Regions from separate parts of the Homo sapiens genome. Here regions 1, 3, 4 and 5 are each linked to region 2. The links come from fine-mapping of genetic effects on gene expression. A gene starts in region 2. Each other region holds a variant in brackets. All regions are shown on one strand. Distances are between the middles of the regions.

Region 1 (4,118 bases), 230 kb before region 2:
GGCCGAGGTGGGTGGATCACCCGAGTTCAGGAGTTCTAGACCAGCCTGGCCAACATGGTGAAACACCGTCTCTACTAAAAATAAAAAAATTAGCTGGGTGTGGTGGCAGGCACCTGTAATCCCAGCTACTCAGGGGGCCAAGGCAGGAGAATCACTTGAACCCAGGACACAGAGGTTGCAGTGAGCTGAGATCGCACCATTGCACTACAGCCTAGGGGACAAGAGGGAGACTTTGTCAAAAAAAAAAAAGAAGAAGAAGAAAGAAACTCTAAACATTATTTCACTGTTTTCTAGTTCCAGTGTAGCAAAAATGAGATTTGCTTTTATTTCTGCTCTTTTTTATTTTGGGGTATAGCTTCCACCCCACTTCTGCTTTTTAATCTAAACTCCTATGAGTATTGGAGCTATCAGATCAATTCTCCATGTTTCCTATCTTTTTCATGATAATTTTTACTTCTCATTAATTTTACGTGAATTTCAATCAAATTCATTCTGTGAATTTCTAACTCATCATTTGGTATTCAGTGTTATCTATTTTGTTACTCCATTTCTCCACAGAGTTATTTTTAAAACCATTTTAAGATTTCCCCTATATTGTTTTAAAATTGATCTCTTTTTTTTTGAGAATATGCTCTTTTAAAAATCATTGAGTCTCTCTACAATGATAATGCATATTTTCAAGTTTTCTTCTCTTTCTTGCATTTAATCTGTTTCAGTCTAGGAATATTTGCTCCGGTCCCTTGCATTGATATGTCAACGGAAAGAAGAAAAAAAATCGAGGCAAACAATGTAAGTAGAGAGTTCATTTGGACTAAGCTTGAACACTGCAACGCAAGAGCGTAGATGCAAGTTAACCTGAATATACACCCCTATGAGCAGCAGTTACAAGTGGGTTTTAAAGGAAACAAAGAGGCAGTTCCCAAGTTGTTTACCAAGAATTTACATTAAAATAACATAAGCTATTGATTGGTTATACACTGTTCTTTGTATCACAAACTCCAGGAACATGAAGATAATGGGCAAAGCAGCTAGTCAGGAACAAAATGTCTTTAAACAGTTGGCCCTGGGTATGGGTGTGAGAGGTGTGATTGAGGTCCCATAACCATACTCATGTCTCTCTGGGCCTGACAAATTTTGTATGCTTCACATAACTTAGATGGCTCTGAGCAATTTTTTTTCTCATTTCCCACCTGTTGATCAAAAATCTTTCCATGGAAACATTAATGATCAATTTCTGCTTAGGTTAGAGTGATCAATATCCTTCCTCCTTCAGTTTGAGAAGGCTCATGATGGTGCTGTCTCACATGGGAAGGAGAGGTGAGGAAATGTTACAATGAGGAATTTTAAGACTGTCAAAAGCCAAATTGAGATGGCATCACAGGTGGCAAAAATGGCACCTCAGTCAAGTATGTAGTTGCTGTTGCTTGTTGAATCATTGTTAGTCTTCAGAATATCATGAGTTTAGTCTTTGTGGAAGAAGTAAAACAAGAGATATATGTAATGCATATAGGAATTATAATCAAAAAAAGAATTTGTATATCAGAACAACAACAACAAAACCTATTCTACTGGGGAGTCAACTAAAAATATCATGAAGGAAATTAAATCCAATTTCTTCTTTGGAGGATTGTTAGAGCTGGGACATTATTCAGAATTCAGTCCAAATTGTAGACAAATAGTAAAAACTAAAAAACAACTAAAAAACAATGGTCAGGGCTAGAATCTTATAAGAAGGATGGTATAGTTTCCTTCTAAAACAATTTTTTTCTCTCCCCAGTTCCCCATTCCTACCAAATATAAATGTTAGTAGGACAAATTTATTGGCTAAATAAGTTTTAGTATTATACTTGGCCTGATTATTTGCAAAATGTGCAACAAGAAGAATGATTGGCCATATAGGCTCTTTTCCATTGACTTTGCAGAATTTTTAATAAGAAATCTCAGATTACACTTTTAAAACCTCTAAAGACTAGTAAGCCAAGCCAGGGATTCACTGTGGGACTGCTTGTAACATATGTAAAAATTGAGTGAATTCCTAT[C/A]TTCTCAATGACCCAAAATATCTTGTGGTTCCTGGGTGCATCAGAAAATGACAGTCTTTACTTACCGCAAGCTGAGGAACCTTGTAAGAGAACCGTGTGGGCAAGGCATGAGGCCAGTCTTTCCCATGTCTATTGGCTTTATAAAGTCAGCCTCAATTCCTCAAAGCAGTTTGGTCACATTCAAAAATGTAACATTCCAGCCAAAGCCTTGGTAAAATAACCGGTGTATCCAATGTGTTCTGTTACAAAAGAAAACAGATTCTTATTGATCTTATGCAAATAACTATATTGCCACAAAATACAAATACTCATGAATAGTTTCCAAATTTTAGAGAAATCAGGTAGGGAGAAATGCAGATGTTTTAATTTTGCTCACAAAAGGTTACCCAGTTGCTGTAAGCTATAATTAGCTAAAAAGAGACATTTTCTTGACTCTGGAAAACAAAACATAAAATAATCAGCAATGTTTCAAAGAGAAAAGTTAAAGAAAGCATTTCCACCCTCTGTCAGGCTAGCCCCATGTATTTAATTATTATTCAGCTGGATGTTAGGTTAGTAATATTCATGAATGCATTCATTTTTTAAATTAGAGTTCTGAAAGTTTTCACTCAGTCCAATGATATGATGGGTGGAATCTAGCCACTGGGAGTATTTCCTTTCTGTGTGTGCTGCCAGTAGATGGAAGTGCAACAAAAGCCTGGCTGCCTCCCCGCACCCCCAGCAGAGCTGCCTACCTGCACCCCCAGGAGAGCTGCCTCCCTGCACTCCCGGCAGAGCTGCCCGGGCTTCTGAGTGTAAAAATAAAATAGAGGTTCCTCTTCAAAGAGACTTTCCTCCCCGTCTAATTAGGAATAAATAGTAACTTCTCTCAGAAACAAAATTTATTCAAAGACCTGTGCTAACATTCTTAGATATCTGCTAGCTATAATAAAGAAATCAATGTACTTTGTGTTCTTAGCTCCCACAATTTAGCCTAAATATTTGCCCTGGCATGCTTACACTGGTCCAAGCAAGTATTAAGTCATAGTCTGTTCCTCTTCCTTATTTGGAGGTGTTTTTACCTTTCTCAGCATTCCACAAGTTACTTCCTCCTTTGTTCTCCTCTGCCTTTGCCTCTTTTAAAAAGTTCTAAGTTGCTGGCTAATCAGGACAAATACAGAATGTGAGGTGCAGGGAGCTGAAGGCCCCTGGGAAGTGACCAACTCAGCATTTCGCTGGAGGCTATAGGATCAAACAGCAAACTGTTTATCATGAATGCAGGATGTGGGCAAACTCACACTGCCCTGCCACCAAAAGGTTTGTTGAGGGCCTCACTCCCTGGCGCTGGGCTCCTTGAAGTTATCTATTGAGAAGTCTAGCACCTAAGAATGCAGTCTTGCAAGCCTGCTGCGAATCAAGCTGCTGGCCAACAACCACTCCCCACCTTCTCACTATCTCTATTGCCTAATAAATATGGAGGGCAGTGTAAAGCTCAGGGCCCTTGTCCACTAGAGACAAGGTGCCCTCCGACCCCTTCTTCCAAATATACTCTTTTGCCTCTTGTCTTTTATTCCCGTGTTTGCCCCCTTTGTTCAGTCCCCCTAGGTCCATGCAGGTTACATAGTGGTGCCCCAAACAGTGACACAATTGGGTTCTCAACAAGTGGTGACTCAGAACAGGGACGCCAAGGATGCCAACAAGTGGCGTCTGAACACGGGACTTCGACGATGTGAACAAAAAAGATCTGCTGGAGCAGAGAAGCTGAAATTGACAAGGCAAACGGGGACCCCAGGATGAGTCTGCCGGCAGCATATATAAGGTCAGTGCTCTAAAGAGGTACTGGGAGCAGTGCTTTATAGAAGTGCTGGGAATGGGAAGCTTTCTGAATCAGGGTAGCAGGGGGAATAACTTGTCTGTTGAAGAAAAACATTATGTGCAGTTGCTTAAAGTTCTGTTGAGACAGTCTGGAGCTCAGGTTAATTCTCAGACACTAACCTCCTGCAGAAGCCACACAAAGTTATTATGCATAACTCATGGTTTCCACAGGCAGGCACTCTTGATGTGGAAAACTGGGATAGAGCAGGAGAAGGATTAAAACAG
Region 2 (4,118 bases):
AGGTAATGCAAATTGGATTCCTGATACATCATTTTACACTTATCGCATTGTCAAAAATTAAAATATCTGCCTATAATAACCAAGCACCTGCAGGTAAATCAAAAGTAAAGGCATTTGATTAAGTCAAAGAGAGAAAATTAAGTTTGTTTATTCATTCACACAGCAAGAATTTTTGAGCCTGTGGTGGTGTGTGTCTTGGGGAGAAGGGTTGGTAAAGTGTTATGGGTTATTGTTTTCACCCTGATTCTTATGTTGAAGCCCTAAGCCCCAGTACCTAAGGATATGACCTTATTTGAAGGTAGAGCCTTTACATAGGTAATCAAGTTAAAACAAGGTCATTAGGATGGACCCTAATTGAATATGACTGGTGTCTTCATAAAAGGGGAAATTTGGACACAGGGACACACACAGAGGGATGAAAATGTGGAGACATAGGAAGAAGATGCCCCTTCTCCTAGCCCCTCTCCTACAAACCTAGGAGAGGCATGGAACAGATCCTTCCCTCACAGCCCTCAGAAGGAACCCACTCTGCCCACACCTTGATTTTGGACTTCCAGCCCCCAGACCTGCGAGACAATAAATTTTTGTTGTTTAAGCCGCTCAGTCTGCGGCACTTTGTTACAGCAGCCCTAGCAGAGTCAAACAGGTGGGGATCTGCTTCTGGGCTTCTCTGTTTCACACAGGTCCTGAGGCAAGAATTTGCCTTTGCCTGTAATCAAGGGCGAGCCGGGCAGCCAAGGTTCCGAAACGCACCGTGAAGACCCTCTAACTGTGCCTACTATTCTGCTCCCCTCCGATCGGCGCGGGGCTCTTGTCCTTCCTCTCTCCACCCAGCGAATGAATGAACGCAGGAGCGCTCGGAGTACACGTCTTCAACTCGGCGACGCCCCTGCTTCGGCCCCACCCCGCAAACACCCGCCCCGGACCAGGCCCAGGGTAGGCGCCCATGAGGTATGTCGAATGAATATATTCGCGCGCTCTTTGCAGCTGCCTGAATTCTTCCTTCCCCAGCATCCCCCTCCGCCCGGTCACCCAGACGGCCTTCTCCAGCCTTGCCGAGCTTAAGTAAGCTGAGGGGCGCTCAGTGTGGCAGCTCTGCGTGTGCAGGGAAGGGGCCAGGATGCAGAGGGGCAGCGCAGGAGCGAGGACGCCACGGCTCAGCGCCCCGCCAGCCTCATGATGGAGCGCTGCCCTGGGGGCAGGGCTGACCCAGAGCCAGCGGCTCGTGAGTGAGAGCCCCCCGACCACGGCCCTTCTCGGGGAGCGGGCCAGCCGCCGGGGTCCCAGCCTGCGGGGTCCGCCCGCGCTTTTGTCCTCCCGGGCGTGCGTGTCCGGGTCTCGGCCGGTTCCCCGTCGGCCAGGCGGAGCTGCGGGGCGACGCCACGAGTCTGCGGGCCCGCGGCGGGGAGCGGCCCCCGGCCAACCCCAGTTCGACGACGTGTTGGGCGTCTCACTCCGGGTGGGTTCCGCGGCGGGGTGTATTTATGGAGTATTGAAGAAATATCTCCGTCGGGACGGCCGGAAGGAAAGAGGCCAGAGGCGCGGAGGCCGGCTAGAGCCGGGAACGAACGTCCGACCGGGAGGTTGGGGGCCGGAGCGGGAGGCGTGGGGAGAGGTCGTGGGCGGGACCGCGAAGGGCGGGGAGTGGGGCGGGCCGGCTCGGATTCCGGAAGGCTGAGACTCCAGTGACCCGGCGGGAGGAGAGGCAACTTTCCCTGTCGGGCTTGAGTTGGGAGAGGAGCAGGGCGGCCTTGTAGGGTAGGGACAGATGCGGGGAGGCTCCCGAGTCTCTGGCAGTTGAGTGCCCAGGCCCCCTTCGCCCTGTCCAGGAGACTGTTGGGGAGTCCCCAGGCCCTAAGTCACGGGGCACCTCTTAGAGCTACGCACCCTAGTTCTGTCTTTAGGGACTGGGCCCCTCATTCCGGATTGTGTGTTAGGGGTGATGTCCTCCCCCTTCACCTCAAGGAAGGGACTTCCAGTGTATGAACCTTTGGCTGTAGCCAGGAGGGGCCTAGTGACCTGAGCACCCCAGGCCATGTGTGCTGCCTGCTCCAGGGGCCTGAAACATCCTTCCTGTGTGACCTGCAGCTGACCCCTCCCTACCCTCTGGTCCACGACAGGCTCTCCCAGCCGCCTTCTGTGTCACTACTGTTCTCTTTGCCTATTTCCTGCAGGCAGAGCTCAGCTCCTGTGCCTTTGGTGTGGGGAGGGTGTTCTGCGCCTGAGAGCTGCCCTGTCCAGGGCGGGCAAGACCTGAGGTGCTCTGTTCACATTGTGTCTGCCAGGACCCGTCCCTGCTCCTGACCATCACCGTCACTGGGGTCACTGTGCTCGTGTTGGTCCTGAAGAGCATGAACTCCAGGAGGAGAGAGCCAATCACCTTACAGGACCCTGAAGCCAAGTACCCGCTGCCCTTGATTGAGAAAGAGGTAATGGGTCAGCCCTGTGGGTGGAAGGCAGTAAGTGGATGATGGCTGGGATGGCAGGGCATCCAGACAGTCATCTCATGGCCTCCAGTTCACTCCCCGCCGCCCTGTGTGTGTGTGTGTGTGTGCTGGAATAGCGCCAAACGGACCTCCTTTCCCAGGCATCTCAGCTGCCCAGCAAGGCTTCTAGAAAGCTGACAGAACCTGCCTATGTTTTGTTTTATCAGAAAATCAGCCACAACACCCGGAGGTTCCGCTTTGGACTGCCTTCGCCGGACCATGTCTTAGGGCTTCCTGTAGGTGAGCCGGGCTTGGGTCATCACCAGGACTGGGGCCTCTGGGGGCTAGGCCCTCCTCTCTTAACAGAAACACAGGTTTCCCACGTCCTGAGGTGTGGAAGATGCCCTCTTGCTCCTCCTGAGCCTGTGAGCTCAGGGAGATAGATAGGGGGATGGATGTGGGACAGAAAATTTCTTTTCTTCATTATTCCAATTGGGCTGACACGAGAGTGGTACCTCAGTGAGCATTGAAAAGAACTGAACCTAGAGCCAAAAGGCCTAAAATCTCATGGAAGGCTCCTTGCTGGGGAACTTAAGGGAAGTCCTTCAATCTCTCTGAGCCTCAGTCTATGAAATGGGATTTCCCAGGCCTGCCTGTCTACCTCACTTGGGTTGTTGTGAAAGTAGAGTGACTGATGGATATGAAAATTCAGAAACTACAAAGTATTGTGCACCTGGGAGGGATGGGAGGAACCAGTGGTCGGGGAAAGGCCCAGAATGTGCGGGTAGGCAGGAATGAGTCAGGTGTGCCCTGCCCCCAAGGTCACTTAGATTCTCTGCAGGGGCCTCAGACCCACATAAGGAGGGACCAGCCCTACGAGTTGCAGATTCCAGCCCTAGGAGTCCTAGAGTTGAGTTATCCCATTTCTAATCTGTAACACCACTAGATAGCTGAGTCAGTCTTAGTGCAGTAGAAAACTGCTAGAATCAGGGATTCAGAGCAGCTTTGTATAATCTGCTAGTGCTGCTTGCCTGCCTGGTGGATCCTACTCCGTGGCCTATTTGTCTTATATGCACAGGCCAAAACCTTGACCTCAGCTCTATCAGGTGGTGAGATTACACTCTAGCCAGCTCGCTGGGCCCCTGAGCCTCCTTGCTGTTCCCTCACTCCATCTCTATGCACGAGAGCTCAGTGTTGTGCGTGCCGTCTCTCAGCTCCCTGCTCGGCCTGTCAGGCAGGTCCTGTTGGCAGGAAGCCTAAAAGAATGAAAAACTTTGAGATAGAGAATTGCTTAGAAACTGCCTTGACCCACTATCTCCTCAGCCTTGGCCTAGGCCGTGCAAAGTTAGTGGGACAAGGTAATGTAGAGGCCTCTGGGAGAGTCTAATATGAGGCCTCAGAGTTCGCTGCTTCGTCCCAGCCCAGTGGAAGTGAAGCAAGTTAGAGATGGGGCTTGAAGGACCAGCCAGGGAGCCCCATTTGCCCTGGGGACACCCTCAGGCCAGGCCTAGGTGGCTGCATATGAAAGAGCCTTTCCAGGTTTCCAGTTTCAGGTTCTCAGAAGGAAGCTAGGTGTCTCACTTACTCCTGGCTATCCCTGGTGCCCAGAGGGACCATGACCAGAGTCATTGAGCCTGTTCTGAGCCCAGAGTGTTGGCACCTCAAAGACTTGGCTCATCCCCTTGAATCAGC
Region 3 (4,118 bases), 24 kb after region 2:
CCTCAAGCTTAGTGACCCACCCCATCTGCCAGAGCACCAGCCTCCCCAGTTTCTAGGAAATAGAGCTCCCACTGAATCTTTGAAGATCTTCCACACTGAGATATCTGAATCCAGAATTCTGTTACTCCATCATTTTCCAGCTAACTTTGAGACAAATAAATGAGGACATTATAGTTATTCTTTCAGTGATTCAACAGAACTTTAAAGATGACTGTCAATTTTACAATCCAAGTGGTTTATAGATGAAAGATCTCCCTGGTGTGGCCAATGATTTTAGGGGAGCACACCTTAAGGTACTTATTCCTAAGTGCTCTCACGTAGCACTGTGGTCTTAAAAATGCACAGCGCTGTGCCTGACATATACAAGACATTCAAAACATGTTGGTTGAATAAGGAGAAAATAGGAGATAGACAGCAAAGGTAGCAGCCCAGGAAGCTGAGTTAATTTTACAGCAAGGTTAGACCTAGTTCCCAGGAACAGAGGAGATAGGATGTGACTGACAATCTTCAGTTTGGGGGTCCACCAAGAACTCCGAAGTTCATGGAACATAATCAGTTATTTCTTCAAGACTTGGGGTGCTGTTATTTACGTATACTATTTCTTCTCTAGCAAGACTACTCATGGATCCCCTGTACCTGGGCCTGGAAGTCAGTTAATTTTGGATCTACAAGTAGGGATACCTATTCTGAAATGTCTAGCTTCTACGGGCTCCTCTTCCCCCTCCTCTGTCTCTTCTCTTCTCTTCTACTGTGACACCCATCTTTCCATTTTGTCTTTCCCTCCCCCTCTCCTTTGCACCATCTCCTCATCTCCTTTAATCACTATGATGACTTTATAGCATGTGTCTCCCCAGTGGAGGGTGGGAGCTTAGAGGTCTATGGCTACTGTGAGACACAAAGTGCAGGTAACGGATGTTTGGGGCAACAGGAAGCACAAGCAAACAAAAGAATCCCAGGCACCATGGTGCAAAAAACAGTGCTTTTATGATGTCATTCTTGTTTGCTCATGCTCGATGTTTCAGGGGTCCTGGCTCAGGGCTACCTGGAGAGATACTATTTGTGGTCTCACCTCATCAGCTGGCCGCCGGTGCAGGCAGTGGGGGTTGAACTTGTTGACATGCAGCACGTGAATGGCACATTTGATGCTGAGATGATGTAGTTGGCTGGTGACTTTTAAGAAGAGTAAATCGTTCTGAAAGAGGAAAGTTTGGTTTATAAACCAGAGTTTCCAAAGTGACAAAAGACCCCTGATGTCCCTCACCAGACCAAGCATAGACAAGTCAACCACATCTCAGGAAGGTGCACGTGGAGACACCAATAGCTTATCACAGTGGTTTGTACTCTGCTACTTGGGACCTCTTTTGTGACAAATGATACTATTTCAAGGCCTTAAGAATATATGGAATCAAGTTTAAAATAACCACCATGGGTACACGTGAGCTGAGTGCTCACAGGGACAACTGAAATATTTAAAGAAAAAGTCCTCACCACAGTTAGGTATTGCAGCATTCGTCTGTCAACTCTAGATTCATGAAACTGGTCTTTGTACTGGGGTAAGCCAATATCATCAAGCCACCCTACAAATACAAAAACCCCAGATGTGTCAGGATTCATGAGAATGAGAGAATGTAGACACCAAAAAAAGGGGAGCAAATTATATTTTGAGGTTCGTTTTATTCCCCCAAAAGTTTAGTAATTCCTCTGCTTTTTACAAGGAGACAGCTGTCCTTGAGGTACCCATTTAACAGGAAAATTCTTTCTACTCTTAGTTGCTGCCAGAGACATTCTTAATACA[T/G]ATATGCCTATCCTTACTTGTCACCCAAATGTGGTCTAGCAGTGCAGACTTCTCCTCCTGTTTGGTGTTGATGGCTTTCACTGCTAAAACAAGCTTCTTCCTGTGGAGTGGGTGCTTAATTCCTAGCTCCTGAAATTAAAAGATGAAGACCACATGTGAAATTTTGGCAGGCAATTTGGCCCTCAGAGAAAGCTGTGTCTGGGTGGAGATGCTCTGAGTATGGCAGTGTATCTCCACACCGTGCCCTGGGATGCCAACCTGCAGCTACAGAGGAACTCTCAGCCTCCTCCATCCATCCTCCTGTGTGTATGTGTGACAGGAGTGGCGGACCCTGGCCTCCCCATGCTTTGGGGAGAAATGGGAGCCTCCTCTCCCCAAGCTGAGCCCTTACCTTTTCCATGTCCTGAGGGGTGGCTGTCAATAAGGTGTGGCCAGAAGATACCCACTGCCTGGCAAAGATCACATACTGAGCCAGGCCAAAGTCCTCCAGCCATGCACACACACGCTCTGTGCTCCACTGGGCAAAGGGGGCATTGGCGTCACTGGGAAGCAGGAAAACAGCATATTCCTGTTAGTGGGAGAGCCTGAGGTTCTGAATCTAATCATGTCTCACAAACAAAAGAAAAGAAAAGAAAAAACAAAACAAAAAACCTGTTTTTTAACAAACAACCTCCATCATGGGATTCTGCTGAACAAAATTCCACTACAACACACTCATAGGAGGTAGACCCTAGAGTTTTCTTAATAACACAAGATCTGAATTTCAAATCTCAGGCTACTTAGAGAATGGGGCAGCCTGTATGGCCCTCCTGAGATCATGTTCACATGTCCTAGGTCCGCATACACACATATACATGCCACAAGTCCAGAGCTGTGGCCTCATTAGGCGGAATCATCTTTTTAGGAAAATGCTTAGAAAACTACTTTTCTTAGCATTTAAGAGGGTCAGTTCTCTTAACATTAAAAAGAAAAAAAACAAAACACCCAAAACTAAAAGCAAAAACTTGCCAATCAACAACAGCTAGCACATTACTTATTAACAAAACAGGAGGAACATTCACATTAAAGTCAATAAAAGGACAATATATTTTTCATCAGTACTAACAACACTGGTCTGAGAGTCATAGCCAGTATTAGAGATAAATAAGAACAAGAAGTATAGCTATTAGGCAGAAATAAAGCCATTCTTTACAGATGTCAGGACTGCCCATTTAGAAAACCCAAGAAAGCTCAGTGAGGTGGCCACTTACGAAATACACATATAAACATATGTAACGTATGTTACATACAAAGATCAATAATTTTCTAATACCATCAATGCACAGATACTAATGCTACTGTTAAAACAATTTAAAAATCCCACTCATAGCAACCAACATTATAAAACGTCTAGGAATTGCCTTAACAAGAGATGTTTGGCCTTGTGTGATTATGTGTGGGGATTGCGGGGGTGGGGAGAGGTATTGACTGCAGCAGTCAACTGAGCTAGATAAAAAAGGACATGAATAAATGAAAAGCTAGATTATGTTCCTAGACAGGATGACTGGGTTTTATAAAGCCATCAATTCTTAAAGACATCCATTTTTCATTTAAAGTGTGAATAGCACACTAAAAATCCCAATAGAGTCATTTTTTTAGGGGGGATTCGACAGAGCAACTTTATGTTCATAAATGAGGATTTATAGAATATCGTAGATATTCCTTCAAAGACCAGAAAGATTCCTTCAAAGTACCCCTAACATATTAGATTAAAACATATTTTTTTAAATGCCTGGTTGAGCTGTTGTTAAAGTGAGGGAATTCCTCAAAGGATAAGCATGATAAGAATGCCCCATTTTAGATCAAATGTTAGAGATAATGTATACCCTGGGGCAGGGACTGATCAATCATAATCTGGAACCTGGGCTTTCATGGGTCCTGAAAATATTTTACGAGGCCTGGAACTTACAAACTTTCTCTTCAAAATAGTATAAAATTTGAATATACAATTAGAAACAAAGGGAATATTTAGAATTAGAAAACAAGCCACAAAAAATTGCAAGTTTTGCAAAACTGAAAAAAAAATCACAAAATCTAGAAATATTTCATTATATAAAATCTTGATGTACCTCTATAGTTTGATTCTTTTTTGAGACAGGGTATTTGTTATTTCAGAGATGGGGTATTTATTTTAGAGACAGGGTGTTAGTAATTAATTATTTTTAGAGATGGGGTCTGGCTTTGCTGCCCAGGCTGGAGTGTAGTGATGTAATTACAGCTTATTACAGCCTTGAGCTCCTGGGCTCAAGCAATCCTCCTGCCTCAGCCTCCCAAGTAGCTGGGA
Region 4 (4,118 bases), 37 kb after region 2:
TCAAGTTTGTGATGACCCATGAGGTGAAGATTAGACATGATCAGACATACGGTCAAGACCCACAGTTTCCAAGTGGTAGTTCATGTGCCGGCTGCTCTTCATAATTACCTGGAGCACTTGTAAAACAACATGAATTCCCAGTGCCCAGTCCCTGATTCAGTCCCTCTGGAAGCACACCCCAGATGTCTATATTTTTAACAAGGATCTCAGATTATCTCAGATTATACTAATGCAGTCAGACCCAGGAACCACTGACTGTGAGAAGGTAGTGTTCAAAGATGTTAGAGACCTGAAGGGCATGACTCCAAGCTCCCTATTATATACGACATATGGAGGGGGGAAGAGCTCTCAAAAACGTGTTTCTGGTTGCATCATCACGCATGCTCCCTCAAGGCAGGGCAGAGACAGCCAAGGAAGCAAGTGGGCCACCCGGGGAGCTCCCTGAGGAGCTGAGATGCAAGGAGAACACATACCTAACCCAAGGATGGGGTTTAAAAGGCAGCCCCGACCTGTAAGAAAGACAGCAAAAAGGAATCAAGGACAATGGAAAGGGCTCTCTGAGCTCTGCTCAGGCCAAGAATAAGGGCTGGGAAGAAATGACTCACTGATGTGGAAGGCAGTGCAATGTCAAGACGTGACGCAGAGGAAACAAGGATGCTCAACTCCAGTTCTGTTTCTCCTGTCTCCAAAAAGAACAATCCTCCTGGCTGTAGGGGAACAGAAGCCCCAGCCAAGGGAGTAGTGTAGAACTGATTATCCAGCTGCTTTAAATTACAACAGAGAAGCAGCATGCCAGAGTGGAAAGGGCCTAGGCTTTGAGTCAGACCAACTCAGACAGAGCTGTTTCTCTTCCACCTCTCAGGACCTCTGGTCATTTCTAAATGGAGAATAACAATTCCTACCTCAGGTTTGCCAGGAAATAACATATCCACAGGGCCTAGCACACAGCGGACAGTGGATAAGGAGAAGCACAGGAAATATCACATACCCAGGGCCTAAAGAAATAGCAATCTAGAAGAGGAGTCCTTAGACCACGGCAGGCACTGGTCAGACTACATCTAGAATATCACACTCCAAGTCTGGTCCAGGGCAGAACTTGAAGAATACATTGAGAAACTAGCGCTGAGCCTAAGAAGACTAAGTAGCAGCTTAAAAGGCTTGTGATCCATGCACATGAGAAGGTGATGTTCAGCCCAGAGAACAGAGCACTCAGAGAGGGCATGAGGGACTTAAATTCCAGAGCTGTCAGGAGTAGGGGAGATTGACTTTTTCCATGGGCTAGATGTGGAGGGAGAGGATCAGCAGATGCACATTTTAGAGAAGCTCACACAGCTGCAAAAGAATACAAAGGATGTCTTCCAATGAAATGAGCTCTCAGTCACAGAAAGCAAGAGCCAGTTTAAGCAAGGGCCAGACACTACAGTTAGGGATGCTGCAGAAAGATGACTGTGGAGCGGTTCTGCACCTGTGTAGCTATTCTGGGGAGGACGGTGGTGTATGTGGGTGAGAGGGGAGGGTGGTCATGTTGAATAACTGAGGTTGTATAAGATTGTGATTATGGCCAAAACCATGTAAGAATTAATCTTTTAATCTGGAGCATTTTTTTCTTTATAAATAGTTCTACGTTACTTATATTTCTTGGTAATCAAATTGGCGTCTTAAACCTTGAGCCTGTGAGCTGGGTGTGTTTCCAAAGGAGCAGGTGGTCACTTACAGGTGTGCTTTAGAAACACCTGCGAATGACCTCTGTGACGCTGAGGTGGGAGGGGGGACTGCTGAGCGATTTAACAGCTGACGCCATAGGAAGCCTTTCAGTTCACAAAGGGACCACACCAACCCCAGGCTCAAGGGACTGTGTTGCAGAGCACCTGGGCAGGGGAGCAGGCAGAAGACTTTTGCTATACAGTTCAGATGGCCCAAGGAATGGCTGCCCACTTGAAGAACCAACTGCTACAAATATGGAAGAGTAGAGAAGCCCCTTATATAGATGCAGACGTGCAGAAAAGATCTTTCTCTTACGCAGATGTGGAGGAGCAGAGATGCCCCATTTTACCGTGAAAATATAAAATGACCCTCTCAGGCAGAAGTCAGCAAGCAATGAGAAGCTCCATGTTTCATATGGACATGGAGGCAGGGGACAGAGAAGGGAAATGCCATCAGCCTCACAATACATTTTCCATATAATGTTATAAATGGTGGTTGGGTGTGGCTGAAATCATGCTAATTATATGAATCTTCATTTCTTTATGGGCTCAACATTTTGTGCACTGGCCTAAAAACTTAATCCTCTTCCACAACAGGCTTCCCTGGAGAA[G/A]ATCAGTCCTAATGGAATTTTTATAACATAACTTGTTCATCAAAGCGGGACTGAGTGTACACTTGTGTTTTTTTAACCATGACATATCAGCACAGAAAGGATGAGAGCTGTCACGTTCTTCAGTGTGCTGAGATCGTAGCAATCCCCTTCCCAGTGATTAAATCTAGATTACTTTGTTAAAGATTAATTTCTCTGAGCCTATAAAATGGAGGTGATAATAATAAATCCTGTCCCACAGATAATGATAGCAAAAGCATATTAAATAGCTGAGTGCACATAAAAATAAAATGGGAGAGAAAAGTTGCGTCTTTCCTCTTGCCCTCTTACTCCTTACAGTTGGCACATTTTAAGGTTATGAAAACTATGACTTGCTAAATTAAAATACTAGCAAACAGTGTAACCACAAATAGACGACGGGGCACGAAGTCAATGTACCTTGGGTTCTAACACCGGGAAGGGCTGGTTCCCATCCATACACTATGGAGTAACATGAGGATTTCGTTTATGTGGAGAAAAAGAGACTTGTGTTATTCACAAACAGCAACAACTCAGGACTACCTGTTTGCTTAAATCTGAAAGGCGCATCCCCTCCCTCCACATCTTCATGTCAAGTAATCACCATCCAGGGCAGGAAAGATCCCTGTCCAACTCCATGGACAGATGTCCTGGGCAGCTGCCAGCAACATGACCATGGCAACCGAGAGACACGTGACCATGGGAGCAGAGCCACTGAATGATCCCAGGGCTCCTGCAGACTTCAGCCTTTATGGTTCTCCACTGTATCAACAAGGAGGCTGATGAACATTATTGGAGACCAAGGGATGGTATGCAGCACAGGCTCACTGAAGGGTCTCTATCAGGGCAGGCTCCCTTGGTCTCTAATGACCAAGCTCAAGAGCCTGCTACTGTCCCCTGCAGCATGAGGTCCACCCACATGATCAAGGGCTACTCCTATATAAGGAGCCACAAGACCCTCCTCCATCTTTCCAGACTCTTACAACAGCTCACTCTCCAACATCCTGACGATCCCACATCTTTCCTTGGGATCATCTCCTTTATTCACATTAATTCATCATTAAAAAAATCTATACGATGTCCCCAAGTGCCCCAGGGATATAGGACTAGTAGTCAAGATCTTCCCTGGCTTGATCTGTCTCATGGCTCTGACCTTACCTCCTCCTACTCTCCACCATCTTCCAAAACCTGCTATTGCTCAGCAGACTCTAACCAAGCTTTGCTGATCTCAACATCTTCTCTCATCAACTCCAGGCAACATTTCCTGAATTGTCCTTCCTCTAAGATGCTTTGGGCCACACCCAGTTAATTTTCTCAAAATGTTCATGTAATTCCTGCTTCCTCTACAACTTTATAAAATCCTCTACAAGGTAGGGACCAGGACCTGCCTGTATATCCCAGTACTATGCTAGGCCCAAAAAAGTAACTCAGTCATCTTTAAGGATAGGTTGATGAGCCGACCTTATCCACAGATTCACTTCTCAAGTCTTCTAGACTACAAGAGAGCTTTTTCTGAGCCCTGAAAAAAACACAAAAGAAAGAAATAGTTATGAGAAGGAGGTACATGTTATCACTCATGCAGAGGACATTTCAAATGCTTAACCGATGGTCTTGGGCTTAGGTTCAAAGTCAAGAAAAAAAAATACCCTCTCATAATAGCCTTTACATACAAAATGAGACTGGCCCACCTTGGGGGACAGACTGGTCCAATAATGTGTTAGTAAGGGCATGACAGGGTCACTTAAATCCAAATGAAATGTTCTTGGCATTGCACAAAAAGCCAGAATAC
Region 5 (4,118 bases), 76 kb after region 2:
CTGCACTCTTTGTGAAAATACTTTCATCATTTGAGATTTTTTTCCATCAGGCTATTTTCTTTCCTGGGTCTTCAAAAGAAAGATTCAATTAAAAAAAAAAAGCCTCAATTCCTTTTGCTAGTCAGATTTTTAGGAAATATTATGAACAAGAGAAATGGCACACAACCTAAGTAGAAAATCAAATGGCGCCAAGAATGTGGTAATTTATTAATCAGCAATGAAAAGATAACAAACAAAAGTTCCTGAATCATTGAAACGGGTTTTTATGAAGACATATATATAAAAACACTGACTTACATTTGTATAAAGTTCTTCAAAGGCACTCAAACAAAACTAACAAACACCAGATTAATTCTCATGACATTTGTCATGAGACCAAAGGTAAAATGCAAAGCCTGTGTTCACCAGTATGCTGTCAAGAAACAATCTGAGTCTTATGCTGATCATGACAATTAAAAAAAAAATGCTAGCGCTTTTGGAGGAAAGATTATAAGTAGTCCTCTAATTGAATCCACTCATTTTAAGGAACAAACTTTTGTTCTTTAAGTAATTGTGAGTACCTTTTATGTGCCAAGTACTATGCCAGGAGTTATAAGGCATACACACATAAACTTCAGTCATTGTTTAATTTTCAAGATAACTTAAAATGTAAGAATGACTTAAGGAAAATTTAAGATTAGATATATTAATACATTTCATTTAAAAACCTAATTCGCTTCTCAACAAATTCTGAAGTTTTGATACAATAAAAATTCAACACCCCTTCCTAAAAAATTGTAGCTCATTATTTATAATACAGTAAAAATATTTAGGAATTGAAAAAAAGTTAAGTCAATTCTGATACTTTTACTAAGAAAATCTATTATAGGTGATAGTAAAGATGACAATACAGCAAAAATTTTAAATGGGAAAAATATAATATTAAGCATACAAAATCTGAGGACTAAATTGCATATCTCTTGTGATTACAGATTTGGAAAGTACATGTACACATAACAAGGACAAAAAGAAAACAAGGAGAAGACATTATTTGAATGGTAGGGAACAGTTAAATATCTTTTTCCATTTTGATATCTATTAAATTATACTAAAAGGTTATTTATATAATATTTTTATTTTAAAAACTATATACAGTAGGAAGAGGCAGAGCGAGATGGGAAAGGGGCATAGAATCAGCTGAGAATTGACTTTCTAAAACTCCAGATGGCACCCACAGGATGAGGGTGAGGCCCCCAGCCGAGCGCTCCCTCACTGCACCAGGTCTGGAGAAAGTGCTGTCTGGGAATCTGTCTAACCAGCTCAGCAGGTTATTCATCTCAGGGCAGCCCTTCCCTTCCCTACCCCCTCTGCCACTCTCAACGTTCAGGTTGGTTTCACCTGCTGTATAAACACCGTACAACTGAGCAGCCAATCCCGCCCCCAGGCAGGATGGGAAAGCAGACAGCGAGGGCTGTAGCCTGGGCACACAAAGGGGCTTCAGCACATGAGCTGCTTCGGCACCCAAGGGCCTTCAGTGCACCCGCCCTTACCTGTTGAAGCATCTCTTCAGCAGCATTGAGTTTCACCTGGTGTCCTTCCAGACACACTTCCAGGTCTCGAATCTTTTCTCCCTGGGCTTCTACTTGGTCTGTGAGGACACTCACCTGTTCCAGGAAATAAAGCAATGGTGGAGGACCAGGGATTTGACATGGTGCAGGAAAGCCTCCCCACCTCAGGGGAGCCGTTAAATCTCACCACTGACTCTTACACACAGTGAACGATTTTGATTTTTGCTGAGTGGCAGGTGGAGGAAGTGTCCTGAACGAAGGCAGCTGCAGTTAGATTCTTACCTTACCAGGGAGTCTCGGCCACTGCTCTGATGACATGGGTCACGTTTACTGCTCTTGATAGACTCAAGAGTAAAACACCCAACAGCCACAGGAGCTGCCTCTGGGCTGGACTCCTGCTCCTTATTCCTCTTCCAGAACAGCCCCGACCTCAAGGCACATCTCAGCTGGCTTGCCAGCACTTCTGCAACCTCGTGTGGAAGAGCGGTCCAAACTTCATGGAAACTAACCAATGACCTTACCTCTCTCATAAGGGTGTGAGGACTGCTCACCTATCAGGTGAGTGTTTTGATGCAATTAAGGAATGTGGGCTGTAAAGGGCATGTATTAGCACTGACAAAACTTGGCTCCAGAAAGGTTATTGTGCTTCACAGGCCAAAACATGACTCTAAGTCATAAATATAGAGAAGCCACATTACACATACGGTGGCAGAAAAAAAGTCATCTTTCTGAAGAACGCTGAGAATCCCTATTAAAAATATTAATTAGTAAAAACTCATTTACAGGAAGTCATTCAAATTATGCACTAACTATATATTAACAATGGTTTTCATAGCCTTCTCTATTAGCAAAC[G/T]GCCCCAGGATCCTTTTTCTTTATTAAGAGATGGTTCAAAGCAAGAAGAGAGAGAATGAGTGTCCTCCCCAAAGTGAAGAAATTAGCAGTTGATAAACTGAGATCCTTTAGACCTTTTTGGTTAGAGTTGTTGCCATTTACATATAGATTATCCAGAATTATTTCTCAGTCTGAAATGGAATAATAGATGGTGCATGAGTTGATGTGAATTCATTTATGAGTGTTTAGATAAACTTTCTGAATTATAAAGCGCCTGTTTAAAAAGGAACTAATCTAAATTAATATGCCTACTTTAAGATCTCCATTTTTATTTTCCCAAATGATTAATGAATTATTGAAACATATTCCTGGAGTTGACACATGGTTAACATTCCACTTTTAACCAAAAAAAATGTTAAAAAAAAAAAAAAAAACAAGAACGGGCTCTTTCTATCAACTTGGTCCACCTTACACGCAAACCTTTGTGGGTGGGTGTTTATTAATCCCTGTGGCCCAACACTCTCAGCCATCCTGAACTAACTCTACTTTCAAAAGGGCAGGACTCTGGGGGTGGGCTTTGCTCACTGGAATCCAGAGTTTCTGTTTGTGAAGGATGTTTTCTGGTTAATCTTATTATGAGGGTTAAACATTTCTATGGTCTATACCATGCCTTGAGGCCATGTGTTGGTGATACTCAAGGAATCATAGGATCTCTAGCATTCTATAGCTAATTGTTCAGCTCCAGGGGCTTTCTGAACCTCAACGCTGATTCTAAGTATTACAAATGAAGGGATGTAGGAAATCCAGACAAAATACATAAAGGTCATAAAATGTGACCTTTGTTCACTAAAAACAACTATTTTTGAGACCCTAATAGATGCTAGGCATAATTTTAGGTACTGGAGGATACAGAAGTTAAAAAAAAAAAAAAAGGATAAAAATCCTTTTCCTAAGGAGTTACATTATAATGAAGATACAAGAGATTCTGGTTTTGTTTTTAACTAATCCTAGAAACAAAGTATTTTGTTATGTGTGATTTGCCTTGTTCTATGAGTAGAACCAGGAAAACTTTCTGGGCCAAGGACTCTAAATTAATTCAGTCTGGCTAAGCTGCTGTGTGCATTAAGCAAGAGGCTCTACCCTGCTGAGAATCTGCCTAACCAGCTCCACTGCAGAACAGCAGTGATCACTTAACAGACACTCCTGGAGTCTGCCCATAAGCTCCCAGTAGAGTAGAAACTACTAGGGTCAACTTCTGACTTTACTGGCAAGCAGCTTCCCAATTGTGTTAGGATTATTTAAATGGGGATTATTCAAGAATTTGGAATTTTAGAAAACTATGAATGTGAAAGGGAGCATTATTACACAGGACTTTGAAAAATTAAATTGTAATCCTCTGTAAATAGGAATGTGCTATTTCAATCATGAAGGGTCCTGGTTCAAAAGTTTGCAATTTCATACTGTTTGCTGCAAAATCTTACATTGGATACTCTTTCATTAATCATGTCATTGGGATAAGAGTTTCAAATTACACATCCCTCAAACATCTGTGCTACAATGTGCTATTCAATCTGGCCCTTGCTACCTTTCTAAAGGCAGCTCGCACCACCCTTTTGAGCACAGACTGCAGGCACAATGGCCACTTGCTGTTCTTCCCACACCCCAAGCACACTCTTGCCTCAGTGTGTGGGCTGGACTGACTGCCTGCTCTGCCTGGAATGCACTTCTCCAGGTATCTG

Evidence for each region. PIP is the estimated chance that this variant, and not a neighbour inherited with it, causes the effect.
Region 1: its variant is fine-mapped to the expression of CYB5R2 in lung (GTEx, PIP 0.98).
Region 3: its variant is fine-mapped to the expression of CYB5R2 in whole blood (TOPMed, PIP above 0.99).
Region 4: its variant is fine-mapped to the expression of CYB5R2 in sun-exposed skin (GTEx, PIP above 0.99).
Region 5: its variant is fine-mapped to the expression of CYB5R2 in blood mononuclear cells (TOPMed, PIP 0.97).

What each region holds. Positions count from the first base shown.
Region 1 is chr11:7,905,322-7,909,439 of GRCh38, reverse strand. LOC283299 (a long non-coding RNA gene) reads left to right here and starts at 3,485. Exons shown (of 8, transcript NR_036678.1): 1 at 3,485-3,837. LOC107984307 (a long non-coding RNA gene) reads right to left here and starts at 3,118. Exons shown (of 3, transcript XR_001748116.2): 1 at 2,774-3,118; 2 at 2,105-2,278. RefSeq lists enhancers at 1,221-1,764, 2,853-3,396, 3,397-3,940, 2,742-3,941. The variant C/A (reference allele first, on the strand shown) is at 2,040.
Region 2 is chr11:7,671,059-7,675,176 of GRCh38, reverse strand. It overlaps CYB5R2 (cytochrome b5 reductase 2), which reads left to right and starts at 1,677. Exons shown (of 9, transcript NM_016229.5): 1 at 1,677-1,758; 2 at 2,286-2,429; 3 at 2,654-2,726. The coding sequence starts at 2,352. RefSeq lists a silencer at 1,165-1,374 and enhancers at 1,895-1,994, 2,015-2,064.
Region 3 is chr11:7,646,606-7,650,723 of GRCh38, reverse strand. PPFIBP2 (PPFIB scaffold protein 2) reads right to left here. Exons shown (of 24, transcript NM_003621.5): 18 at 2,187-2,337; 19 at 1,813-1,924; 20 at 1,489-1,577; 21 at 1,070-1,192. Among named protein-coding and RNA genes, the nearest start is that of CYB5R2, 25 kb to the left of the region's middle. The variant T/G (reference allele first, on the strand shown) is at 1,796.
Region 4 is chr11:7,634,225-7,638,342 of GRCh38, reverse strand. PPFIBP2 (PPFIB scaffold protein 2) reads right to left here. Exons shown (of 24, transcript NM_003621.5): 13 at 3,791-3,848; 14 at 2,750-2,791. Among named protein-coding and RNA genes, the nearest start is that of CYB5R2, 37 kb to the left of the region's middle. The variant G/A (reference allele first, on the strand shown) is at 2,315.
Region 5 is chr11:7,595,085-7,599,202 of GRCh38, reverse strand. PPFIBP2 (PPFIB scaffold protein 2) reads right to left here. Exons shown (of 24, transcript NM_003621.5): 5 at 1,530-1,643. LOC105376535 (a long non-coding RNA gene) reads left to right here and starts at 2,023. Exons shown (of 4, transcript XR_007062579.1): 1 at 2,023-2,105. The variant G/T (reference allele first, on the strand shown) is at 2,401.